5 separate regions of the Homo sapiens genome follow, and all the other regions are linked to region 5. Evidence: fine-mapped expression QTL. A gene starts in region 5. Each other region holds a variant in brackets. All regions are shown on one strand. Distances are between the middles of the regions. Region 1 overlaps CNKSR3 (CNKSR family member 3). Region 2 overlaps IPCEF1 (interaction protein for cytohesin exchange factors 1). Region 3 overlaps CNKSR3 (CNKSR family member 3). Region 4 overlaps IPCEF1 (interaction protein for cytohesin exchange factors 1). Region 5 holds the start of IPCEF1 (interaction protein for cytohesin exchange factors 1).

What was found.
Region 1: its variant is fine-mapped to the expression of IPCEF1 in sun-exposed skin (GTEx, PIP above 0.99).
Region 2: its variant is fine-mapped to the expression of IPCEF1 in whole blood (TOPMed, PIP above 0.99).
Region 3: its variant is fine-mapped to the expression of IPCEF1 in gastroesophageal junction (GTEx, PIP 0.93).
Region 4: its variant is fine-mapped to the expression of IPCEF1 in whole blood (TOPMed, PIP above 0.99).

The regions. Positions count from the first base shown.
Region 1 is chr6:154,393,001-154,398,106 of GRCh38, forward strand. CNKSR3 (CNKSR family member 3) reads right to left here. Exons shown (of 13, transcript NM_173515.4): 13 at 1-5,106. Among named protein-coding and RNA genes, the nearest start is that of IPCEF1, 39 kb to the left of the region's middle. The variant G/A (reference allele first, on the strand shown) is at 1,978.
Region 2 is chr6:154,308,718-154,313,823 of GRCh38, forward strand. All of the region lies in intron 1 of IPCEF1 (interaction protein for cytohesin exchange factors 1), which reads right to left. Among named protein-coding and RNA genes, the nearest start is that of IPCEF1, 46 kb to the right of the region's middle. The variant T/C (reference allele first, on the strand shown) is at 2,429.
Region 3 is chr6:154,403,597-154,408,702 of GRCh38, forward strand. CNKSR3 (CNKSR family member 3) reads right to left here. Exons shown (of 13, transcript NM_173515.4): 13 at 1-3,056. The coding sequence ends at 2,758. Among named protein-coding and RNA genes, the nearest start is that of IPCEF1, 49 kb to the left of the region's middle. The variant GTAGA/G (reference allele first, on the strand shown) is at 2,289.
Region 4 is chr6:154,246,911-154,252,016 of GRCh38, forward strand. IPCEF1 (interaction protein for cytohesin exchange factors 1) reads right to left here. Exons shown (of 12, transcript NM_001130700.2): 4 at 539-578. Among named protein-coding and RNA genes, the nearest start is that of IPCEF1, 110 kb to the right of the region's middle. The variant CT/C (reference allele first, on the strand shown) is at 2,999.
Region 5 is chr6:154,354,885-154,359,990 of GRCh38, forward strand. IPCEF1 (interaction protein for cytohesin exchange factors 1) reads right to left here and starts at 1,919. Exons shown (of 12, transcript NM_001130700.2): 1 at 1,788-1,919. It overlaps LOC105378067 (a long non-coding RNA gene), which reads right to left. Exons shown (of 3, transcript XR_007059823.1): 3 at 5,009-5,106.

The sequences.
Region 1 (5,106 bases), 38 kb after region 5:
CCTCCGGGGTTCAAGCGATTCTCCCACCTCAGCCTCCCAAGTAGCTGGGATTACAGGTGCCCGCCACCACGCCTGGCTAATTTTTGTATTTTTAGTAGAGATGGGGTTTCACCATGTTGGCCAGTCTGGTCTCGAACCCCTGACCTCAAGTGATCCACCTGCCTTGGCCTCCCAAAGTGCTGGGATTGTAGGTGTGAGCCACTGCACCCACCTACTTAGTGTTTCTAATCCCCAGGATATATATCTAGGAATGAAACTGCTGAGTCATAGGGTATGTGAATACTCACTGCTAATTTAACCTCATACACATAATATACCAGATCCCACTGATCGTTCTAGGATATCCTCCAAGTATTTTCTAATCATTTCAGTTTTGCCAGTCAGGTAGAGAGCAGCATCTCCCTGTGATTTTGACTTCACTTTCCCTGCTCGCTAGTGAAAATCGCTTCACATGCATATGGACCATCTGATTCTCTTTTGCAAAATGCCTTTTCGCTCGTTTTTGTGTTGATTTGTCATTCTCTTGCCAATTTGTAATAATTATATGTATATATTCTTACTGCTAACCCTTAGGACTTTTTAATCTTCTCCCAATTTGTAACTTTTTAAAAATTTTCTTTAAGGTGTCCTATGATGAGGAAAAGTTCTAAGCTTTAGCGTAGCTGAATTTATTAGTCTTTTCTTTTGTACTCAGCCCTTTTACTGTCTTCTATAAGAAATCTTTCCCTATCCAAGGTTACAAAAACAAATTTCAAAATGATTCATAGATCAAATAATAAATCATAATAGAAATTAAAAATTAGTTAGAATTAAAGAGTAATGAAAATGCCATATACCAAGCCTTGCAAAACATGGCAAAATAAATGTTTTGGGGAAAATGTAGTCTTGAGTATTAATATTAGAAAAGAGTTGTAAATTAATAAGCTAAATATCCAACTTAAGAAACATGTCAGAGACCACTCATCCTGACCAATATCACTCTCCCAACCTTCCTTGAAGTTGCAGTGGCTGTGATTGTCATTTCTTTTCTTTTGTGAGATGAGGGTTTTGCTTTGTCATCCAGACTGGAGTGCAGTGGTGTAAACCTGGTTTACTGTAACCTCAAACTCCTGGGCTCCAGCGATTATCCCACCTCAGCCTCCCAAATAGCTGGGACCACAGGTGTACACCACCAAGCCTGGTTGTTATATTTTTTTGAAAGATAGGGTCTCACTATGGTGCCCAGCTGGTCTTGAACTTCTGGTCTCAAGCAATCCTCCCAGCTCAATCTCCCAATTGTTGGGTTTCTGACTGTTAGCCACCACACATGGCCTTATTATTGTCACTTCTAGGCCAGGTTGGTTGAGTATTCACTTTCCTGGGACCCATCTCCCAATTTACCAGGTGGATAATGCCTGGGTCACCTTGAAGTCCAAAATTGGAGACACCATAACCACGCTGGAGACACCAGGAGCAACCCAAGTCCCTGAGTCACTAGCTAGAGGACAGCCACAGAGCATTACCCAACCTGGAACATCCAAAGTGGACGTTGATGAGGAAAATGTAAACTCTTAGTGTGTAAAGTCACTGAGATTTGGGGGTTGTTTGTTATAGCATGAGCCTAATACAAGAAGTAAAAAAAAAAAAAAAAAAAAAGAAGAATTCCAAAGGAAACAGAAGAAAATAGAAAATAAAAAGCAGAAATCAGTGAAATTGAAAACAAAGAAACAACAGAAAGGCCCAACAAAGGGACCACTGTTCTTTCCTGAACCTTAGGAAAGCCATCAGATAACTGTCCGATTCTGTTCTTAGTCCTCTTGCCAAGTCTATTTTCCTCTCCCCACGCTGTTCACAAGAAGAGCATATAGAGAACCTGCATATATAAAGCTGTGTGGGTTGGATTCTTTGTTGCTTATACCTCCAATGGCCAAATACATTTTCTTTCGTCACAGGAACTAAAGGAAAGAGATGGTCTGAGCACAGAGAATGAATCTAGGA[G/A]AGAGGTGACTGGTTTGGGCTGCATCAGGAAAATGCGAAGGCTAAAGACCAGAGCAAGAGACCAAAATGCAGGGAGTACAGGTGGAAAAGGTCAAGTGGAACGGAGGTGCCCAGGGCAGGAGAGCAGGGCTTCCTGGCAAGCTTAGGACGCGTGCTCCCCCTGCAAGGAGAGAAGGAAAAAGTAAGAGTTTTCTTATTTGCATGCATCAAGTATTTTCCATTGCCAAGAAGAGAATTCAATCCCATTTCCCATGTAATGAGTGAAGGGTAGTCTATGTTTCCAGTTAATTCTACAAGAGTGCTTTTGAAAAAAGTACTCCAAAGAATTGGGAAAATGATCATACAGAGCCCTGGTAACAGTCATCATCATCATCCATTGCTGTTTACAAAGGAGACTCTGTATTTAACCACCCAGGATCTCTTTATTTTAATTTGTTTTCTTTGTTGAACTGCATCATAATTGAGTATCTCCTGCTACTTGTTATCTTTTTGCAGTGCAGGATGTGTGGGGGAGCAGAATTTCCACTTGTTTTCTTTCATCAACAAAGTAGAACATCACAGACTCAGATGAGCCCTATGTAGCAATATGCAAAGGACATTACTTGAAAACTCAACTTTCTTGTTCTCAGACTTTTATTAATGCAGTTTGTTGTCTCCAAAAGAGCAGCAACAATATTCTCAGTGGTTCTACCACTCAACCCCTTGGGATGAAGGTTCTTAGTAATATTTCACTATTTAGTCTACAGCCTATATATGCATGTACGTTTTGTTTGTTTGAGATGGAGTCTCACTCTGTCACCAGGCTGGAGTGCAGTGGTGCAATCTGGGCTTACTGCAGCCTCTACCTCTCAGGCTCAAGAGATCCTCCCATCTCAGCCTCCTGAGTAGCTGGGACTACAGGTGCACACCACCACACTCGGTTAATTTTGTTTGTTTGGAGGCAGGGTTTCACCATGTTGTCCAGGCTGGTCTCAAACTCCTGGGCTCAAGCAATCCACCGGCCTCAGCCTCCCAAAATGCTGAGATTACAGGCATGAGCCAACTGTGCCCAGCCAGCCTTAGTATTTATAGACCTGGTTTCCTCAGGTCCAAATCCCTCTCCTTCAATCAAATGTTATACAACTGCAACTGTCCTCCACGTCGCCTCCATTTATAGAGCATTCTATGACCTTACCTCCCCACCATTAACTTTTCCCTGGCTAATTTGAAACTGCCTGTACGAGCTTTAAATGAGTTCTTTGTGGACTTCGGAAAGTGCTTACATTCTCAGCAGTTCCTGTAATCCTGTAACCAAAGAAGCGTTGTTGATGGCCAAGGCTTATTCTTCCTACAAATATGATTGAGTTCTGACACCTGGTATAATGTTTTCTTTAAAATGAGAGCCAATGTAATAAAATTCTTTATGGAATAGTCTGCAAAATGCTTTAATATATTAATAAAATTAAAACAATTTTCACAGAAAATTTTAATAATTTTTTCTAACTTCTTTTCTGATTGCACAGTTAATTTTACCATCTAGTTACTTCAATAATATTTTCTCTGCCTACAGAGCAAATATAAGGGTAAATTATACAGACCCTGCTTTAGAAAGGCTCACAATTCAAGCTGGTCTAACACGATGAGTCAATGCTATGGAAAAACAGAAGAGACCAGTTAATTCTATTCAGAGTAAGATCAAGGAGGACCTCATATGGATGACCTTGGGACTTACTGGGGTAACTAGACCGAGAAGGATGAGTCCATTATCAGGATTTAAGAATCCAGAACTAAGTGCTAAGTAAGGGGTTTAAGGAAAGCATCAGCAAAAATTCACTAATTGTTTTCTTTTTTTTTTTTTTTTGAGACGGAGTCTCGCTCTGTCTCCCAGGCTGGAGTGCAGTGGCGCAATCTCGGCTCACTGCAAGTTGCGCCTCCCGGGTTCACGCCATTCTCCTGCCTCAACCTCCCGAGTAGCTGGGACTACAGGCGCCCGCCACCACGCCCGGCTAATTTTTTTTTTTTTATATTTTTAGTAGAGACGGGGTTTCACCGTGTTAGCCAGGATGGTCTCGATCTCCTGACCTTGTGATCCACCTGCCTCAGCCTCCCAAAGTGCTGGGATTACAGGCGTGACCCACCGCGCCCGGCCTCACTAATTGTTAGTTTAAATTACCACCTACATGAAGTCTTATACCCTGGCTTTGTATTTTATGTTGGCTAAAGAGAATGATTCAATAAGACTATAGGATAAAGGCACCATTAAAGGTGCTTCAGTGGCATTCTTTCATTGAGGAGAAATCTGCAGAAGGGTAGCACTTTCTAGTAAAACATAGTACTCTAAACACGGTTAGCTTACATGTTCTTCCATTTATTTAAGTGCCTTAAAAACAAAAGGAGAAGCAAAACCCTGAAAGATCTTGGTTTAATTCTTTTCTTCTCTAAAAGTAGGTTTCTGTTTTTTGGAGGGGATTTAATTGCTCATCTGATCTGAATGCCCATGACCAGCTCTTGTTTATCATTGGCATGGCCATGAACACAAACAATATAAAATGCCAATTTAACCAATCCACCATGCTTGTTTTTTCTTTTTTCCTAGGAATTAACAGTGGCAGGCCCTGGAAATAGATGGGTAAGAGCAAATCTGTGGTCATCAACTAGGTGCACAGTCCAGTGGGTGTGTGAGATGCATGCACAGGGCAGACAGTAGAGCCTGCAACTGTGATGGAATTAACAGGGTAGGCCCTGCAAACAGATGAGTAAAAGCAAATCTGCGGCCATCACTAGGTGCACAGTGCAGTGGGGGTGTGTGAGATGCACAGGGCAGACAGTACAGCCTGCAACTGTGATGGAATTAACAGGGTAGGCCCTGGAAGATGAGTAAAAGCAAATCTGCGGCCATCACTAGGTGCACAGTGCAGTGGGGGTGTGTGAGATGCACAGGGCAGACAGTACAGCCTGCAACTGTGGCGCAGGCGCAGAACAGGATTGAATTTCGCTAAAAAGACAAAGGAAGAAAAAGTATGGTCTCTGTCCTCAGGGCATTGCAACCCATTAGGCTGAATCATATGAACTGCAGATTATGCAGGTAAAATATGGCCACATATCCACACCTTCACAGGGCTCTGCCTGACACACGGAGGACACAATCAC
Region 2 (5,106 bases), 46 kb before region 5:
TTTGTGTTGAAGGACTGTAAAAGAATCACGAATACACAACCACTATTACAGCACAAAAGGAGTTAACATGCATTTGTAATTTCTAGATTCTTCATAAAATGATAATACTTTAGAATGTTCTCTTTGTTGTCAATTTTACAGGATAATACTATTTTTCAATTTAAATTAGATGCGATAAGGTGTGACATCTGCAACTCAGGAACACAAGGACCGTCTGCTAAAAATGGTTTGCAGTTCTCATTTTAAAAGTGTAAACATCTACATTTGGTTTTTTTGTTTTTTTAAAAAGGAACTTCTTGCAAATATGTTAAGTCATCTTAGATGAGGACAGTTTTGTAAAGAGACATGGAGAAGGTCAATATTTGCTAAAATAAGTTGTCTCTTTTAAATAAGGTGATTTCTAAAAAAGAAGGGAAACTCACTTTTACTAAGTATCATATACTCACTCTCTCCAGCTGTCACAGATAACTTTCCCTGAGCTGTCTGAGTCAAACTACCCATTACATGGTCTCAGAACGCCAATAACCGCTCATTCACAGCCTTTATCAATATCACAAATTTGGATATATTTGTATGATTAAGATGAGTATCTGTCCCCCCACTCTATGGTGGCAGGGCTCACCATCTAATGCCAGCACACTACCTGAAGCACAACAGGAGCTCACAACATGTGTTTAATGACACCCAACCGATGGAAGAAACCAGCAGTTATTCTACCTTCACATCCCCAATACATCCTGCTGTCTCTTATTCAGCCATCTCACCGTTCTTCACAGAGCTGTTAGATACCATCCTTATATACCTGTTACCCTTCTCTTCCTATTGAAGACCAATCCCTTCATTATGCTGGGGAGGTGCCGCCCTCCTTGTTCTTGGAGAAGGCATATTTACTGTCTCTTCTCTGTCCTGTATTTTTTTTCATCTGCCCTGTATCTTTAGACAATTCCTCTCTACTTTCCTCTTTGATCCACAATCTTTGTGAAATTCTACCCACCTTAAAATAAAATTCTTTCCGCTAAAGCTATTTAGTCACTCTGCTTTTCTTTTCTTGTTTTTTTTTTTTTTAGATGGAGTCTTGCTCTGTCACCCAGGCTGGGGTGCAATGGTGAGATCTTGGCTCACTGCAACCTCCGCCTCCCCGGTTCAAGCAAATCTCCTGGGTCAGCCTCCCAAGTAGCTGGGATTACAGGCGCATGCCACCACGCCTGGCTAATTTTTGTATTTTTAGTAGAGACAGGGTTTCACCATGTTGGCCAGGCTGGTCTTGAACTCCTGACCTCAAGTGATCCACCCACCTCGGCCTCCCAAACTGCTAGGATCACAGGCGTGAGCCACCACACCCGGCCGTCGCTGTGCATTTTTAAACTTTCCCTTTAGTCAACCTTTGTAAAAGAAGTCTGTTCCTACTGCTCCAATTCTTACCACACAGTCAGCTCTCCAAGACCTAATAATACAAGTGGAGCTCAACCTCAGCTGAATCAAGATGCCCACATCAAAACTGCCAGGCATTTCTCAAAAGAGGACATATGATTGGCAAATAGATGCATGAAAAAATGCTGAACATCACTAACCATCAGGGAAATGCAAATTAAAACCACAATGATATCACCTCATACCTGTTAGAATGGCTATTTTCTTTCTTTCTATTTTTTTGAAAACTAGAGGAAGGGGAGGAGGTCTAGGATGTTGGCAAGGATGCAGACCCTTGCACACTGTTGGTGGGAATGTAAATTAGTACAGCCATTTTGGAAAATAGTATGGAGGTTCCACAAAAACTAAAAATAAAATTACCATATGATCTAGCAATCCGTATTCTGGGTGTATATCCAAAGAAATTGAAATTAGTATGTCAAAGAGATATCTGTACTCCCATGTTTATTTCAGCATTATTCACAATAGTTAAGATACAGAATCAAAATGTGGTATGTATATACACATGGAATACTATACAGACCTAAAAAAGAAGGAGAGTCTGTAATTTGCAACATGGATGGAATTGAAGGACATTATGCTACATGAAAGAAGCCAGGCATATAAATACAAATACTATATGATCTCACTTATATGTGGAATCTAAAAACTTAATCTCATAGAAAAAGAGAGTAGAAAGGGGATTACTAGGGGCTGGGGATGGTTGGGGAAGGGTTGGGGAAAGGGAAGATGGTGATCAAAGGGCACAGAGTTTTAGTTAGACTGGAGGAGTAAGTGTTGGTGTTGTATTGCACTGCATGGTGAACACAGTTAATAATAATGTATTGTATATTGCAGAATTGTTAAAAGAATTTATTTTTAAAGTCCTCACTCCAAACAAATGATGTTGGAAGGGAATAAATATGCTAATTATCTTGATTGAATCTTTCTACAATGTATACATAAATCAAAACAACACATTGTAACCCATAAATATGCACAATTATTATTTGTCAAT[T/C]AAAAATAAATTAATAAAAAATAAGAAAGAAAAACTGCCAGGCATTTTGTTCTTGCTGAGTTCAAGGAGTGCTTTTCAATCTCTCTCTTACTAACCTCCCTGCAGCACAGGATCCCATCCTAATACTCTTTTTCTCTTGGCTTTCAGTACTCCACTTTCTGCCAGTCTTCTTTCATCTCTTCTCAAGCTCATTGCAACCCCTTGCCTCTTTTAATCCCTTAAATATCAGTGTTCCTTAGGATCTTATTCATGTTCTTTTTACTTTCTCTTACTACCTTTTGTTGAATTATCACCAATGCTAATGGCAACCAAATTCATATTTCAAGCTAGACCTCTTGAGCTCCAGAGCTATACTTCCAGTTGACCACTGGCCATGCCCCTCTCCATGAACCACAATTTCCTAAATATGTTTTTTAAAAAAGTGCTCATTATGTTTCCTCAAACACTTATTTTTAAATAACCCAATTTTTTAAATGGGCAAAGAATCAGAATAGATAGTTCCCAAAAGAAGACATACAAATGGCCAACAAGTGTATGAAAAAAATTTTCAATATCACTAATCATTACAAAAATACAAATTAAAACTGTAGTGAGAGATCGCCTCACCCCTGTTAGAATGGCTATTTTCAAAAAAAGATGAAAGATAACAAGTGTTGGTGAAGATGCGTAGAAAAGGGAACTCTTGTGTGTAGTCAGTCAATGGGAAGGAAAATTAGTACAGCCAATATGGAAAACAGTATGGAAGTTTCTCAAAAAATTAAAAATACAACTACGATATGGGCCAGCAATCTCTTTATCTTTTGGATAAATCCTGGATATTTACCCAAAAGAAATGAAATCAGTATATTAAAGAGATGTCTATACCCCCACATTCATAGCAGCACTATTCACAATAGCCAAGATATGCAATCAATCTTTGTCCATCGACAGATGAACAGATAAAGAAAATGTGATCTATATGCACAATAGAATACACTTAAAAACACTTTTAAAAAGAAGGCAATCCTGTTATTTGCAATAACACAGATGAACCTGGAGGACATTTTGTTACATGAAATAAGCCAGTCACAAAAAGATAAGTACTGTATGATCTCATTTATATGTGGAACCTAAGAAAGTCAAACCTAGAGAAACAGGGAGTATAATGGTGGTTGTCAGGGGCTGGTGTAGAGGGAAGGATTGGAGAGAAGTTGGTCAAAGAATCAAAACTTTTTTTTTTGAGACAAAGTCTTGCTCTGTCGCCAGGGCTGGAGTGCAGTGTCACGATCTCGGCTCACTGTAACCTCCACCTCCTGGGTTCAAGTGATTCTTCTACCTCAGCCTCCTGAGTAACTGGGACTACAGGCACGCACCACCACACCCGGCTAATTTTTTGTGTTTTTAGTAGAGACGGGGTTTCACCATGTTGGCCAGGCTGGTCTCGAACTCCTGACCTCATGATCCGCCCGCCTCAGCCTCCCAAAGTGCTGGGATTACAGGTGTGAGCCACCGCACCTGGCCAGAATCAAAACTTTTATTTGGACAGGAGGAATAAGTTCAAGAGAGCTCTTGTACAACATGGTGACCACAGTTAATAACAGTGAATTGTATACTTGAAAATTTCCAAGAGAGATTTTGAGTATTCTCATGATCAAAAAAACTATGTGAGGTAACACATATGTTAATGAGCTTGATTTCGCTATGCAACAATGTACACATATTTCAAAACACCATATTGTAAACCATAAATATGTACAATTTTATTTGTCAATTTAAGATGAATAAATAAAAAATTTTTTAGAACTTTTTCTTGGGCAGGGCACAGTGGCTCACACCTAACACTTTCGGAGGGTAAGGTGGGAAGATCACTTGAGCCCAGGAAGGGAAGGTTGCAGTGAGCCGAAATCAACCCCACTGCACTGCAGGCTGTGAGGCCCTGTCTCAAAAAAAAAAAAAAAAAAACATGGCCGGGCACAGTGGCTCACGCCTGTAATCCCAGCATTTTGGGAGACTGTGGAGGGCAGATCACCCGAGGTCAGGAGTTTGAGACAAGCCTGGCCAACATGGTAAAACCCCATCTCTTCTAAAAATACAAAAATTAGCCAAGCGTAGTAGTGGTGGGTGCCTGTAATCTTAGCTACTCAGGAGGCTGAGGCAGAAGAATCACTTGAACCTAGGAGGTGGAGGTTGCAGTGAGCTGAGATCGCGCCACTCCACTCCATCTTGAGCAAGAGAGCAAGATTCTGTCTCAAAAAAAAAAAGAAAAAGAAAAAAAATTAATGTCACACAGATTTCTTAGAGAGTTTAAACAATAGATAGGTTGTATTTCAATTTAACAGTAAAACAAAATGTTTTAAGAGACTACAAAAGTCTATCCTACTGGATATTGGAAACCTTTTTCTTTACTACTTTTCTATACTAATGACTTTATTAAAGAAAGATGTTTTGGTTAAGCCTAATCTCTTCAACTCAATCACTGTTCTAGTTATTAAGGCTTTACTGTACGGTTATATAGGCAAGTAAATTCCAAAATGGTGTAGAATTGTATGTATGCTTTAATATAAAAGAGATGTAAAACACCAAGAAGCCAGAAATTCATCTTCTGGTTCTTTTTTTTGTTTTGTTTTTTGTTTTTTTGAGACAGGGTCTCGCTCTGTCACCCAGGCTGGAGTGCAGTGGCATGATCTCAGCTCACTGCA
Region 3 (5,106 bases), 49 kb after region 5:
ACAAAGGTTTTTTTTTTTTAGCAGCAATATATTTTTCAAACACAATTCAGGAGAAAACCTCAAATAAAAAGAAAGATGAAGCTGTGGAGGGTGACTGCAAGTAGAGGAGCCAGGAACTTCTCTCGCGGGTCCTGGGACTCCAGGGAACAAAGGCTGAAAAGCACCAATCTGGTTGGCCACTGCCTATAATGAAGACTGACTGCCGAATATTCACTTAAAGGATGGCTGTTCAATTCACAAGTGGCATTTTCCCCACAGAAAAAGAGCTCACCAGCCAGCTAAGGCCTCCAGAGTGATTTAACTCATCATCCAGTGGAACTACAGCTCTTAGAGTTCTCCCCACAATCTGGGGAGTAAGAGGAGATGTTGCCACCCACTTCCTGGGCATAAAGCCAGCTCAAGACAAGAGTAAAACAGGCAGGGCTGGCTCGCCCCTCGTACACAGCTCCCTCCTCATCACCAGTGCCCTACACGAGACCTCCCCAGCCCACACCCCACCCTCCTAGTGTGTTGAACACCCTGTGGTCACACACTGCAAGCCTCTTCTCTCCATCTGCCAAACACCCTTGGGTCTCCATGTCTCCATGAAATACCAGATCTTTTTCTTTTTGTTTTTTTTTTGAGACAGAGTCTCCTTCTGTCACCCAGGCTGGAGTGCAGTGGCCTGATCTTGGCTCACTACAACCTCCGCCTCCAGGGTTCAAGTGATTCTCCTGCCTCAGCCTCCCGAGTAGCTGGGACTACAGGTGCCCACCACCATGCGAAGCTGATTTTTAGTAGAGACAGGGTTTCACCATGTTGGCCAGGCTGGTCTTGAACTCCTGACCCCAGGTAATCCACCCACCTTGGCCCCCCAAAGTTCTGGAATTACAGGCATGAGCCACTGCGCCAGGCCGAAATACCAGATCTTCATGGCAGTTGTCTTAGAGGTAGAGAAGAAAACAGCCAGACTGAGCCGGGTGTGGTGGCTCATGCCTGTAATCCCAGCACTTTGGGAGGCTGAGGCCGGCAGATCAGTTGAGGTTGGGAGTTTGAGACCAGCCTGGCCAACGTAGTGAAACCCCGTCTCCACTAAAAATACAAAAATTAGCCAGGCATGGTGGCGGGCACCTATAATCCCAGCTACATGGGAGGCTGAGGCAGGAGAATCGCTTGAACCTGGAAGGTGGAGGTTGCAGTGAGCTGAGATTGCGCCACTGCACTCCAGCCTGGGTGACAGATTGAGACTCCATCTCAAAAACAAACAAACAAACAAAAAAAACCAGCCTGACTGAATTCAGTCACAGTAATTATACATGAGTGGTTGCTAGTTCCTTTAACCACACCAGAAGCATTTTAAAGGGAAGATGTTTCCTAACTCCAGTGATTTTCATGGGCTGAATTCCAGGCAGTTCAGCAAACTCAACAATTCCGGTGGTATGAGAAAGGGCATTTTGGAGTAGGAGATTTCGGCTCTGCCTAGGAAGATACCTCAGAAAATTCCCCTCGTGCAATTTCACTTTGCATATGCTTCTCCTGTTCTTCCATTTCTAATCCATAAAATCCCAAAATGCTTGGGAGGGTTTATTTTGATTTTTTTTAACAATACTGCCCTGCTGGCAACAGCCACGATAGTCACTTGCTCATCTGAAAATGCCTTGCACTTTCTTTTTCACTAGCTTCGTGTATGACGCAAAACAGAAATATTTCAATTACAGGTGACTAAGAGTAAGAAAAATATACAACTATATTTAAAATACTTAAATTAACAAGATAGTACTTTTCCATTCTAACAAAATATCATACATTCAGTTTAAACAAGAGTTAATATCCAGACACACGTTTTCAAAATACCTGATGCTAGTTGAAAATTAGTGACCATGAGGCTTTCCAAGATATTTCTAATTAGCAAACTGTGTACAATTTTGAAGAAGTGTACACACCGTGCTGGAAGACAGACACTGAACAGGTCAAAATGCAAACTCATGTATCTTTCATCAACCTAAATCTTGTTGCTTCACTTTTCTAAATGATACTTTGGCTGTCAGCGAATCTTATAGCTTCTTTTCCCTTAAAGACAATAATATATAACAACACCACCCCACACAAATAACCATAAACTTCTTTGTGTGAAATAAGCCCTATCAAAATGTGTTCATGTATTTCTGTACCAACTGATCTATACTGAGACTGTCATGAAAAAGGTATCAAACAAGTGTAACAGGCCTACACTTAAACCTCTGCCTCAAAGGAGAAATCAGATACTTGCCACGTTATTGCAAAGTCAAAGCTGCTACACTTAAAATATG[GTAGA/G]TAGTTTAGAAAAATCAAATCAAAAATGTTTTCTCACTGGCTTTTTCAGATAAAGAAGTTGGACCACAAACCAACACATCTGTGTGAAAACAGCCACCAATTTGAGTCCCCCCAGCCCCTCAAAAAGGAACAATGCCACCAGTCCCTCACAATGACCATAACGTCTCTGGCCAGGACTGCGATTTCTAGCGCGTGTCTTCACATTCTATCTCTGGGGAAGCAAGACAAACAGGCTCTACCCATTTCCCTCCTTTTGTCTCCACAAGCCAGCACCTAAGATCCTCTGAATTTGTTCCCATCCAATCCTGCAAACTTCCAAGAAGGGCAGTAGATAACTTTTCAAAAGAAAAAGAAATTGCATAAGGTCCCTACATAATACTGAGGCTGAAACGAGAAGAGGCTGTCCACTGTAAAAGCAAGGCACTTGGGGCAGGAGCCAGGCAGGTGGCCTGAGCAGGGTCCCTCTCAGTGAGTCAACAGTTTGAGGCGCGTAAACCAGCTGACCAGGAGGGACGGTTCTGTGGACGAGGACTTCGTAGCTGAGGAGCCAGATTTCTTTTTGGTCCCTTCCTCCTGGAATGGAATCGTGGCGCTGCTGTGGAGATCTGAGTTGATGTAGCACCTGCTTCCTCGGATGTAGTCCGCACCCCGGACCAGATGCCGCTCGGTCGTGGGTCTGGAGAACCGGTATGGGGGAGAGGAGCTCTCTTCAATGATCGGAGGAATCCGCTCGTTACTGAAATACCGGCAAAGGGCATCCTCCCCTGTTTCCAGACAAAGTCCATTAAGTCACAATCCCAGCCGGGCGTGGTGGCTCACACCTGTAATCTCCGCACTTTGGGAGGTCGAGGTGGGTGGATCACGAGGTCAAGAGATCTAGACCATCCTGGCCAACATGGTGAAACCCCGTCTCTACTGAAAATACAAAAATTAGCTGGCGTGGTGGCGGGCGCCTGTAGTCCCAGCTACTCAGAGAAACGTTTGAACCCGAGAGGCGGAGGTTGCAGTGAGCCAAGATCGCGCCACTGCACTCCAGGCTGTTGACAGAGCGAGACTCTGTCCCCTCCAGGAAAAAAAAAAAAAAATCACAATCCCCTACACAGTGCTCTTTGGAGGGCCCTCGGCCTGCCCAGACTTCTGCCACCACCCTGAATGTGGGCACCATACCTTTACTGCTCTCCTCCCTGGATTGGCCACAAGGTCCCACCTGTGGCTGGGCCCACCAATGGGTGCTCTGGAAGCAGAAATGGGAAGGGTCCCTCATACTTTAGGCTGCTTTAGCGCCTGAGAGGTAGCACACGGGTCTCCTTTAGTGGGTGGGGACCATAGAGTGTAGTGTCCCCGCGATGGCTGAACAGAACTGTTTATGCATTGTTTAATGCAGGGCATTCAAGCTGGGCATTCAGGAACATTCCCGAACAAGGAAAAGAGTGATCCTGCCCTAACTGCCAGCAGACCCCCTGGGATGTGGCTGGAATGTTAAGAAACTGAATAGAAACTTAAAATACAGTACACTTTGGTAACATGTAGCATCCTTGTGAAGCGGAAATTCTACACCCCAAAATGTGCAAAGATCTATGGACTCACGGATGCTTACTGAAACATTTATTTTTATGCTTATTTTTATTTTTTGAGACAGGGTCTCACTGTCATTCAGGCTGGAGTACAGTGGTGCCATCTCAGCTAGTTGCAGCCTCCATCTCCCAGGCTCAAGCGATCCTCCCACCTCAGCCTCCCAAGTAGCTGGGACTACAGGTGCGCACAACCACACCCAGCCGGTCTCGAAATCCTGAGACCAAGCAATCCACCTGCCTCAGCATCCCAAAGTGTTGGGATTAGAGGCATGAGCCACCACACCTAGCCTACTGAAACCTTTTTCAAATTTTAGAATTTGAATTTTAGAATTTTCTAAATTTTCTAAATTCTAAGTTTTCTAAATTTTAGAATTTAGAAAATTTTAGCCTTTTTCAAATTTTAGAATTTGAAAAAAAAAAAAAAAAAAAAAAACCTAAATTTCCAACAGTGGCACGTTGAATAAATAGGCGCTAGAGCCATAAGATGGCATTCTAATACGGCTATATTCTTTTCAAATATGGTGTAGATAATATTCATTTTTACATAGTATTATTGAATATTTACTTCTCCCCTTTTTTTGAGACGGAGTCTCACTCTGTTGCCCAGGCTGGAGTGCAATGGAGAGGTCTGGGCTCACTGAAACCTCCGCCTCCCAGGTTCAAGAGATTCTCCTGCCTCAGCCTCCCGAATAGCTGAGACTACAGGCGCCCACCACCACACCTGGCCAATTTTTGTATTTTTAGTAGAGACGGGGTTTCACCATGTTGGCCAGGCTGGTCTCGAACTGCTGACCTCGTGATCCGCCTGCCTTGGCCTCCCAAAGTGCTGGGATTACAGGTGTGAGCCACCGCACCTGGCCAACTTCTCCCATTTTGCACATTTTTCTAAGTATATAAATGTAAATACAGGAACAACTGGAAATCACACGAAACATTCACAGTGATTATTTCTTAGGTCAGAGAAACAGATTCCAGCTGAGTTTTATTTTCTCATGCCTTCCATGTTTTTCAATGTACTTGCTTTGCTTTTGTAATGAAAGGGGAACAGTCACATTGAAAAAGTGCCCATTGTCAAAAAGCCACATGTTGCATAAGTCTATTTATATGAAATGTCCAGAACAGGCAAATCCACAGAGTAGATGAGTGCCTGTCAGGGGCTGAAGAAGGACGGAATTGGGAGTGACTGCTAAAAGGCACAAGGTTTCTTTTTGGAGTGACAAAAATGTTCTGGAATAGTGGC
Region 4 (5,106 bases), 110 kb before region 5:
TGCAAAACCTATGCAAAACCAATGCAAAAAAAAAAAAAAAAAGCCATGTGTCTGTTTTATTTTTAAACATTTGTTTCATGCTTAGAAGGTATAAGATACGGCCAAAGAAACAGCGCAGCAGGAGTAATATGCAAGTATTAGTCTAAGAATAGTATTCACCAAGAATAAGTTGAAAATAATTAAAATTGTAAGGCTGGCGGGCATATCAGTGCAGTAACATAGCTCCTCTCAACAATAACAGCCGTAGTTATGCAATAGATGTTGAAGGGTTAATGCCCACCTCAATACACAGCTACTTCCCGACTCACTGCCAGTTTTTCTAAGCTCTTTTGACATACCACGAGGGATTAATCCAAATGAACAACATGTCGTCATTTCTTAAAATCGATTCAACAATAACCAAAAATTAATCTGCCGTCCACCTCCTCTTATTAGCATTAAGACAGACAGAAATCTGATCCCAAGGAAGGCACCCCGGAGAAAAGCCACACTCAACGTACACAAAATGGAGATAAAGAAACAAAAGAGATCTAATTACCTTGAGTTTTCCTCCTGGGCTTCTGACGCAAGGGAACCTGCTGAAAATGCAGGAAGGAAAGAAAAGAGGAAATTTCTGATTGTGTTGTAACATTTGTAAAGAGAGAAGGAGGGAGGAGGTGGCAGTGTTTATGAGCAGGATGGAATCTAAAAAAAAACTCTCCAGGCAGAGCTTAACGGGGAGCTACTAGCTGAGGCACAAAATGTGCTAATTAGAATCAATATACATTGAGCTGAACCTGAAAAAAAAAAAAAGTCACAGAGCATTTATCACTGATGTTTCCTGTTCCCACCCACAAGCCGCTCTCACTACTACTTTAGTTATGATAGCACAGTGTTCACGGAAGTTTTAAAAATCAAAAAATATTTCCCCTTTTGTGTTTTTGTGAGAGAAGGAAAAATATATCTGCTTCTTTTGCAATTTCTAAATAACAATGATTATTCAGATAAACCTGGAAGATAATTGTTACAATCTCAAAATATTAGAGTCACTTGACTATTCAGCTCATAGTCCTGCTACCACGTAGGGTTAGACCTAAACCACATGAATTAAATATCCCAGAAAATGAAATTCCACAACCTCTTTCAGTGAGAGTTCAGTAGCAATCAACCCTCCTTATCAGGAAATTCTTATTTACAGACAAATTAAAGTTTGTTATTCTGTCTTTAAATATCTCTGAATATTTCTCACGTTTTATGGAAGATAAATTAGTTACCACCTACTATTCTGTACTAGCTCTTCAAATCAGACATAAGACAACATATATGAAATATACATTTTTTCCACAATACATTTTAAACAAACATACAATCAGACTATCAGCAAAAATAAAAAATATTTTTAAGTGCTTTAAAATACGTGTGTGTGTGTGTGTGTGTGTGTGTGTGTGTAGAGAGAGAGAAAAAAAATTTTGCTTAAAGAAGTTCTATTTGTTTTTTCTTTACAAATATCTAAGCTGAACTGATTTAAATTTGAAAGACAACCTTTTCCGTTAACAGGTAGAGAACTCAGGGGAAAAAACGTGTGAAAATGAAAAGCAGTTCCAAAATTTGGTATGTAATCTTAGTACAGCATTTTATAATGTTTTCTAGAGGTTCCTGGCTTATAGTCTACATATCTAACTATTGATCTGATAGCTATTGTATATGGTTCTACTGTATGTTTGAAGAAGGGATATGACATAGTGAAAAGAGGAGAAGGTCTTTAAATCCAGAGGCCTGGAACCAATTCCTGGCTATTATAATTAGTAGCTGTGGTGCCCAAGAAAATAGCACTCTCTGAATCTGCTTCTTCATTTATAAAATGAAGATATTGATAATAATTCTAATCCTATAGGTCTTATAAAGATTTTACAAGATTTATTTGTGAAAATCCTCTGAGAACTAAACAACATCCCTTTATATGAGTATGTGTAATATAATATTATATCGTTGAGATAAACAAATACTTTATATCTAATAAACAGAAAAAAATCATAATTTTTATAAGTATGATTTATGTATCCTTCAGCAATTACAACGAAGCTAAAGTGTTTAAATTATATTTCCTGGGAAATATAGATCCCAAGAAATATTGCACTGACATTTCATCTGACCAATGTTAGAGTAAAATTTATCCCCCCCAAAATTAATCATCCATAAAGATGGCAGTAATTACCTTAAATTTTAAGCAAAGATAGACATGTTATAATCATGGCATGTTACTAAAATCCAGGCAAGTTATCATGAAAAGGACCTAGTCTCAGCCTCACTTCACAAATATCTCCCACACTGACCTGTCTTGTGTTCTAAAGTTCCTATCATTCCCTCAAATCATCTCCTGGGACCTTTTTTTGATATGCCAATTCTCTGAGATCAGTAAAACCCAACTAGTACCTATTGGCAAAATATTTTTGCCCAAATATGTATATTATTTGAGTGGCTAAATTTTAGCTGAGAGCCAGGACTAAAGACAAAGAAGAGAATTCGTGAATGTAGATGCTGGGTAAGATTTGGGAAATCTGGGGTCCAGGAGTCCCTAGCAAGCACTTGAGACAAACCAAGAACCAGGGGAATAGGGAGAAAAGGGCGTTGTTAACAGTCATTCCTAGAGTGCTCAGGCCTCCAATGAACAAGATGAAATTACATTAGTTCAAACAAGAAGAGCAGCCTTCAGATGAACAAATGAGAGGAAAGTCCCTGGAGGGCAGCGATGGGATCAGCCAAGGCAGAGAGGAAGTGATGCTCCTTCCATCGCTCCCAGCTGGGTACCAGTGAGTATCCTCCACCCATTCCTTGTGAGCACCCAGTGGGACTGGAGCCCTCCGGCTCCACCTTAGGGCTACTTCCAGGGAAAGCCCCAAAATGTGAGCTTTGTCTCAATTCTGCCCAAGACCAACCCTTGGTCTACACCACGTTCTTATGCCTAGGATGGGATGAGAACAATACCTCAAGCAGAACAGGCACCCAACTCAAAGAAAGG[CT/C]TTTTTTTTGTTTGTTTTTAAGTGGGGGAGGGAGCTTAGTTATTGAGTCATTGAGTCAACCCTGTTCTGACAATAATTCTCTTAAAGCAAATTATTAACTGTTAAAACTGTTTTCCCTGACCAGAAACAGACTGCATATTATAGAAATAACAAATTCAGGGAGTTTCAGTTTCACCTAACATACATGAATTTGAAACCTAAATTGGTTTATATGAGACAGTGAAAACAATCTTTGAGAACTTTATTGCATCTAAGATAGATTTTACTCCTCACAACAGGAAGTGGAACCCGTGAACTAGTCCGTTTCAAAATGATCTTGCATGTGGTTTTTCGCTAGGTAAGTAAAAAAAAAAAAAAAGCAAGCAACCAGTTGAGCATTTTATGAGATGGTTTTTCAATAGGGGAAATTATAACTTGCTATCATCATAAATATTCAGAGCCTAGTAAGATATTTTCTCATTCTATTTTCTTCCAGTTTGAATGTTATAGGTAAAACTAAAAAATTATTCTAAAAATCTGATTTTGCCCTAACTTACTTCTAAAGTTGAGGGGAAATTTTTCTTTGAAAATATGTATTTCTTTTTCATTGAAGAAGTGTATTTTTCTTTAACTTTTTAAAAGATGGTTCAAAAACTTCATTTGGCCACGAATCACTCAAAAACACATGGAAATATACAAAAGACCCAGTAGAAAATATACAAAGGAAACTCCTTTGATATTGAATGTTGGGGCTAACGCCCAGGTTACGGGTAACTGTTATATTGACTTATAATCCATATAGTAGTTGTTAAACCTTGCAGGCAAAATTTACCCCAAGATGTATTAAAATTCACAGTAAGATGCTCTGTCATTACATCAGACTTCATAGTGATCCTAATCTTTAGCAAAAACTATACAGTGATATGCTGGTAAAATGGGCTCTCTGGTTGCAGGAGCCCTAACTGGTGGCTTTTGTCAATTTCTGTGGTAGAAACCCTCACATCATTGACAGTTTCAAATTACCAATATTTTAACAACCAAGCCACAGAAATTCCTGACTATTTTAGAGCCATACCAGATCGGCACAGCACTGATAGAGCTGTTAGGGATGTTCTTCCAGAAACCCCTGACATCTCCACAAACGTTTTTTATCCTTCCCAGAAAAATAGACTCAACTTTTTAAAGGAGATTCTAAAGCATCCAATTAATAGACATTTACCTGTGAAAACATGAAAAGCTTGCTTAATTTTTTCAGAAGACTAACCACCTTAAATAATACTTAATACATTAATTGAAATAATCTGTCATAGTAGTGGATAATGAAGAAAGACAATAGACATTCTAACAATAATAACAGAAGCAGTAATAAAAACAATGACAGAGGTTGGATGTGATGACTCACGCCTATGTCAGTGATTTGGGAGGCCGGGGTGGGAGGATGTCTTGAGCCCAGGAGCTCAAAACTGGCCTGGACAACATAACAAGATCCCATCTCTTATTTTAAAAAACCACAATGACAGCTAAAACATATGAATAAAGCTTAATAATCATATCATGCTCGCATGTGCCAGGCGCTGCTCTGAGTCTTTTCAAGATTACTAGCATTGAACTCTCATAGCCACCTTTCTGGCTCAGGTGCTATTATTATATCCACTTTACAGAAGTGGAAATTAAAGCAAACGGAGCTTCAGAATTTTGCCCAAAGTCACCAAAGTAAATGGTAAAGTGAAAATAGGTATTTCAAGAATAAAACTCTGCATAGTAAACTGTTAGGATATTTGTTTGCATTGTTGCTGTTTTGTTAAGAAGTAGGGCAGGGAAGCAAGGACTAGAGATTGTGGCGAAGATGGATACCACGGCACTTTCCACCTAGAAGAGGAAAAGAAGAAATGAAAGGAGGACTGGGAAGAAGGGGAGGAAGGAAGGGAGAGGAGATAAGGAGCTGCAGGAAGGGTGCAAGAGAAGACGGAAGAAGGAGGAAGACAATGTAGAAAGTGGGGAAGAGCAAAGTTCCAGGGAAAATCGTGGAGTTTCTAGCTGAAACAATTGCAATAAATGACTTAGCACCATAGAGAACACAGTTAGAAATGTACATATTGTTTCAGCAGTAAAGATACTGAGTCTGATA
Region 5 (5,106 bases):
ACAAATATTTACTGAGAGCAGGCACTGTTCTGAGCACTTGGGAGCACAAGTAACTCCTCCATTTGCAGGATTCTCTTTAAGGCTAAAAAGCTTATTTTTTAGGATTTTTCTTCACACACACACACACACACACACACACACACACACACACACACACACACCATTTGCCACATTAGACCTACTTGCAAATTGTTAACCTGTACTGCAATTATCAGCTCACACTGCAGAGCCTCCAAGCTGGATGGAAAGCAGAAGTGAGCTGTTCAAAAGGATGCACGAGTCAAAAGGAAAGTCTCAGGCAATAGTGATGAAGTAATTTCTTATCTCTTATTGCCACAGCAAACTACCGCAGGAAAGAACTTCCTATTTCCATACTCTGATGATGTATATTTGCTTAACACAGCTTGCCTGAAATAGTTCATACATGGACCCACTCCAGAAAAGACACTTGATTTATAAAAAGAGGAATGGAAGGAAATTATAAGGTAAATTAAAGAATGAGTTCATCAACACATACACAAACTTACACCCTTTTCTTCCTTGCTTGCATGATGTGAGCAGAAAGAAATGTGTGTTCTTTCCATTTCTGTTTCTTTTCTTTCTTTCTTTCTTTTTTTTTTTTGAGATGAACTCTTGCTCTGTCACCCAGGCTGAAGTGCAGTGGCGCAATCTCAGCTCACTGCAACCTCCGCTTCCCGGGTTCAAGCAATTCTCCTGCCTCAGCTTCCCAGGTAGCTGGGATTACAGGTGCATGCTCCCACGCCCAGTTAATTTTTGTATTTTTAGTAGAGACGGGGTTTCATCATGTTGGCCAGGCTGGTCTCGAACTCCTGACCTCAGATGATCCACCCGCCTTGGGCTCCCAAAGTGCTGGGATTACAAGCGTGAGCCACCGCACCCGGCATTCTATTTTCTATTTTCTTTTCTTTCTTTTTTTTTTTCTTCCTGTAGAGATGAGGTCTCATTATTTTGCCCCCAGGCTGGTCTCAAACTCCTGACCTCAAGTGATCCTCTCGCCGTGGTCACCCAAAGTACTGGGATTACAGGTGTGAGCCATTGTGCCCAGCCCTCGGTTTCAATTTTCTACATAAAATAAATAACTCGATAGAAATTAGACTTTATCAAGGACAGCACTAGGAACACATAGGCCACTCAAGACTAATAGAGCCCACTGCTGTAGTCAAAGATGCTTCAGTGGGTTATAATTCTGACTTCTATAATTAAATACTTTCACATATACCCCAGCAAAGAAAAATCAAGTGCCCCAGACACCCTTACTAAAAGACTCTGAACCAACAACACCTAGCTTTCATTTTTATACCAGAGATATTTTGGCAAGCCTGAGACCTTTATCAAAGTGTAAAATGTCCCCCAGCTGCCTCCATGCAAAGGAAGCTCCCTTGCAAAGAACACACTTTCTCGAAAGAGGGCGGCCCCAGAGTGCTTCCCCAAATGAACTCCTCAGGACCCAAATACATGCTGAATTGTGCTTTTCTAAATCAAACCTGTGGTCTGCAGTCTAAACACCTATCAAGACAACACCCATTTAAGAAACATAAAAGCAGAGTGAGTACACAACTCTCTCCTCTTTCAAAGCTTTCACAGAATTAAAGAATCTTTAGCACCTGGCTTCCCAGATTACAGAGAGCTGAGTGAATATTACATCCCCAAAGTCATATTTCCTACCTCACTACTCTAAGGAGAGTGCTAGGGTATCCATTGCTTTGCCATCTTGATCTGTCAAGCAGTTACCTCTCATACATCAGCCAAGAAGTGACGTTACTTACATGCAATACAAAGAGAGTAAATCCAAGAGCAGTCTTATTCCTGGATTCAGAAGCCTCATAGTACTCTGAGGCCAAGCTTGAGGATTCTACTTAAAGCAGCCTCAGCTCTGGAAACTCAGTCAACCCAGAACTAACATTCAAAGCTGATCAGAGAGTAAAGCTCTTTCGAAAGAAGAGGAAGTATCATCTCCACTTCCTCAATCCTAACGTTCTTCCTTCTCATTGTTATGAAACCCTTCCTTGATGCCCATATCCAGGACACAGTACATGTAAGGCAAGCACACCCCATCTGCCTGAGTTCATTGATCACTAAGCACTGCCCAGTGTATTCATTTGCCGAGCACATTGGTGGAACAGTTCATGGTTCTGCTTTCCTGTTTTGGAGGCAAGGATGTTCATTTACAGGCATGGAGGGTGAGATGATCTGCAGAGTCATTCTCAGCATTTTTGGGTGAAATGCCACTTCAACCTCTTTAGGTTCAATCTTCTTTCAGATTTCCCTCTTTCCTCCTTTCCTAATCGTTCATAATGCTCTAATAAAGAGAGGGTACAGACACATTTGTAAAACGTATTTTAGGATAAAAATAAGTCTTAGCCTGCCATCTTTTGCAGTAGACATAGAAGAGTCTCTAACCACAAAACTTTTCTTTCCCACATTGGAAAAGGAAAATGGCAGGCTGAAAGTCAGAGATATTCCATCTCATTACAAATTCCTGCCCTCCCAATCTCCCTTTCAACACCAGCTTCTTGTTTCTCTATACCTTCTAGGGAAATGAATACAGCTGGGCGTGGTGGCAGATGCCTGTAATCCCAACCACTCAGGAGGCTGAGGCAGGAGAATTGCTTGAACCTGGGAGGCAGAGGTTGCAGTGAGCCGAGATCGCACCACTGAACTCCAGACTAGGAGACAGAGCAAGACTCCAACTCAAAATAAATAAATAAATAAATATGTATGTGTATATATATATATAATATATATATATAATATATATATTATATATATATTATATATATATTATATATAATATATATATTATATATATATTATATATATAATATATATATTATATATATTATATATATATAATATATAAAATATATATATTATATATATAAAATATATATAATATATATAATATATATATAAAATATATATAATATATATAATATATATATAAAATATATATATAAAATATATATATATATAAAATATATATATATAATATATATATAAAATATATATATATAATATATATATAAAATATATATATATAATATATATATAAAATATATATATATATATATATATATATATATAGAATATATAGAATATATAGAAACCTAATCCCCAATGTGATTGTATTTAGAGGTGGACCTTTGGGGAGTGATTAGGTCATGAGGACAGTGCCCTCATGAATGGTATTAATTTTCTTATTAAAGAGAACCTGGAGATCTGCCCACCCCTCCACCATATGAGGACATGGCCAGAAGACAGTCACCTAGGAACGAGGAAGCAGGTCCTCACCAGACAATGAATCTGCTGGCGCCTTGATCTTGGATGTCCAGCCTCCAGAACTGTGAGAAATAAATGTCTTTTGTTTGTAAGCCACCCAGGCTACGGTGTTTTGATATAACAGCCTGAATGACTAAGACAAAGATAAAATGTAAACTAAATCTGTGGAGGAGTGAAAAAATGAAAGAAGATGCTGTACATTTTGAGCAGGAACAAAATGAAGGTTCTCTCAGCGGCTTCTTGTTTGTGTACACTTCTATTTCTGGAAGTGCTGCCTCATCTTCTCCCTATATTGAGTTGTCTTCTAGTTCCCTGCTTTACGTAGAAAAAAAAATGGTACTAGGTGATATTAAAGGAATTTAGTGGTATCAACAGCATGGCCTGGCTTCTCACCAGACATTTAGATGCCATCATCAAAGATATCCTCAAAAGACATGTTATTTACCTTTATGGGGCCAGAATAGAGCCACTTAAATTCTTTGAGCAAAGATGATTTGTAGAATTAGAATAATCCTCAAAACGGCCGGACTGTCAGTTCAAGATGACGGGCTGACCACAGATTTGCTCCCTCCCTCCCCAAAGACTCCGTTAAAATGAGAAAAGTATAAAAAGTTTATAGGGCCGGGCACGGTGGCTCACACCTGTAATCCCAACACTTTGGGAGCCCCAGGCTGGCAGATCATGAGGTCAGGAGATCGAGACCATCCTGGCTAACATGGTGAAACCTGTCTCTACTAAAAATACAAAAAATTAGCCACGCCTGGTGGCACGAGCCTGTAATCCCAGCTTCTCAGAAGGCTGAGGCAGGAGAATCGTTTGAACCTGGGAGGCGGAGGTTGCAGTGACCTGAGATCGCGCCACTGCACTCCAGCCTGGGTGACAGAGCGAGATTCCGTCTCAAAAGAAAAAAAAAGATATAAACCCACAATAACCCAAAAAAGGAGGAAAAGCATCAGAACTTGGGAGAGCACAACAGATTTCTGGCAGCCTGAAAGCCGATGGAGGAGCAATAACAGATGGAGGCAGGCAGGGGAACCACAATATCTCATTAGTTAGGAGAACACGGCGTTGGAGGAAATTGCCCGTGTGCGGTGCTGAATCCCTGAGAGGACCGGAACTCAAGCCAAAAGAAGCTAAGAGAGCTAAATGAGTGATAGGGTGACAGGACTGAAAACAGGAAGAGTAATTCAAAGTCTGTAAGAACTCAGCCCCTCCCATACCCCTCTTTCAAATCTCTCTGTCCGCCCAGCCTCTGCACAGCAAACACACACAATTCCAACCCCGGGCAGCATACCGAGGATTCGTCTCTACACATAGTGAAATCATGCAGAGAATACAGGCATTGTATGTGGATATGAGCACTCCACAGTCAGAACTCCACATTCTGGCAATAAGAGCCTCATCTAGCATGTGCTGGATGATGGATGATGTGCTTTTTTTTTTTTTTTTTTTTTTGAGACAGAGTCTTGCTCTGTCACCCAGGCTGGAGTGCAGTGGCATTAATTATCTCGGCTCACTGCAACCTCCGCCTCCAGGGTTCAAGTGATTCTCCTGCCTCAGCCTCCTGAGTAGCCAGGATTACAGATATGTGCCACCACACCCAGCTATGTTTTGTATTTTTAGTAGAGACAGTGTTTCACCATGCCGGCCAGACTGGTCTCAAACTCCTGACCTCAGGTGATCTGTGCACCTTGGCCTCCCAAAGTGATGGGATTACAGGCATGAGTCACCACGCCTGGCCTAGATATGCTTCTAATCAGTATCCTTAGAGACAGTCCTGAAGATATTGTATCCATTAAAAAGAAC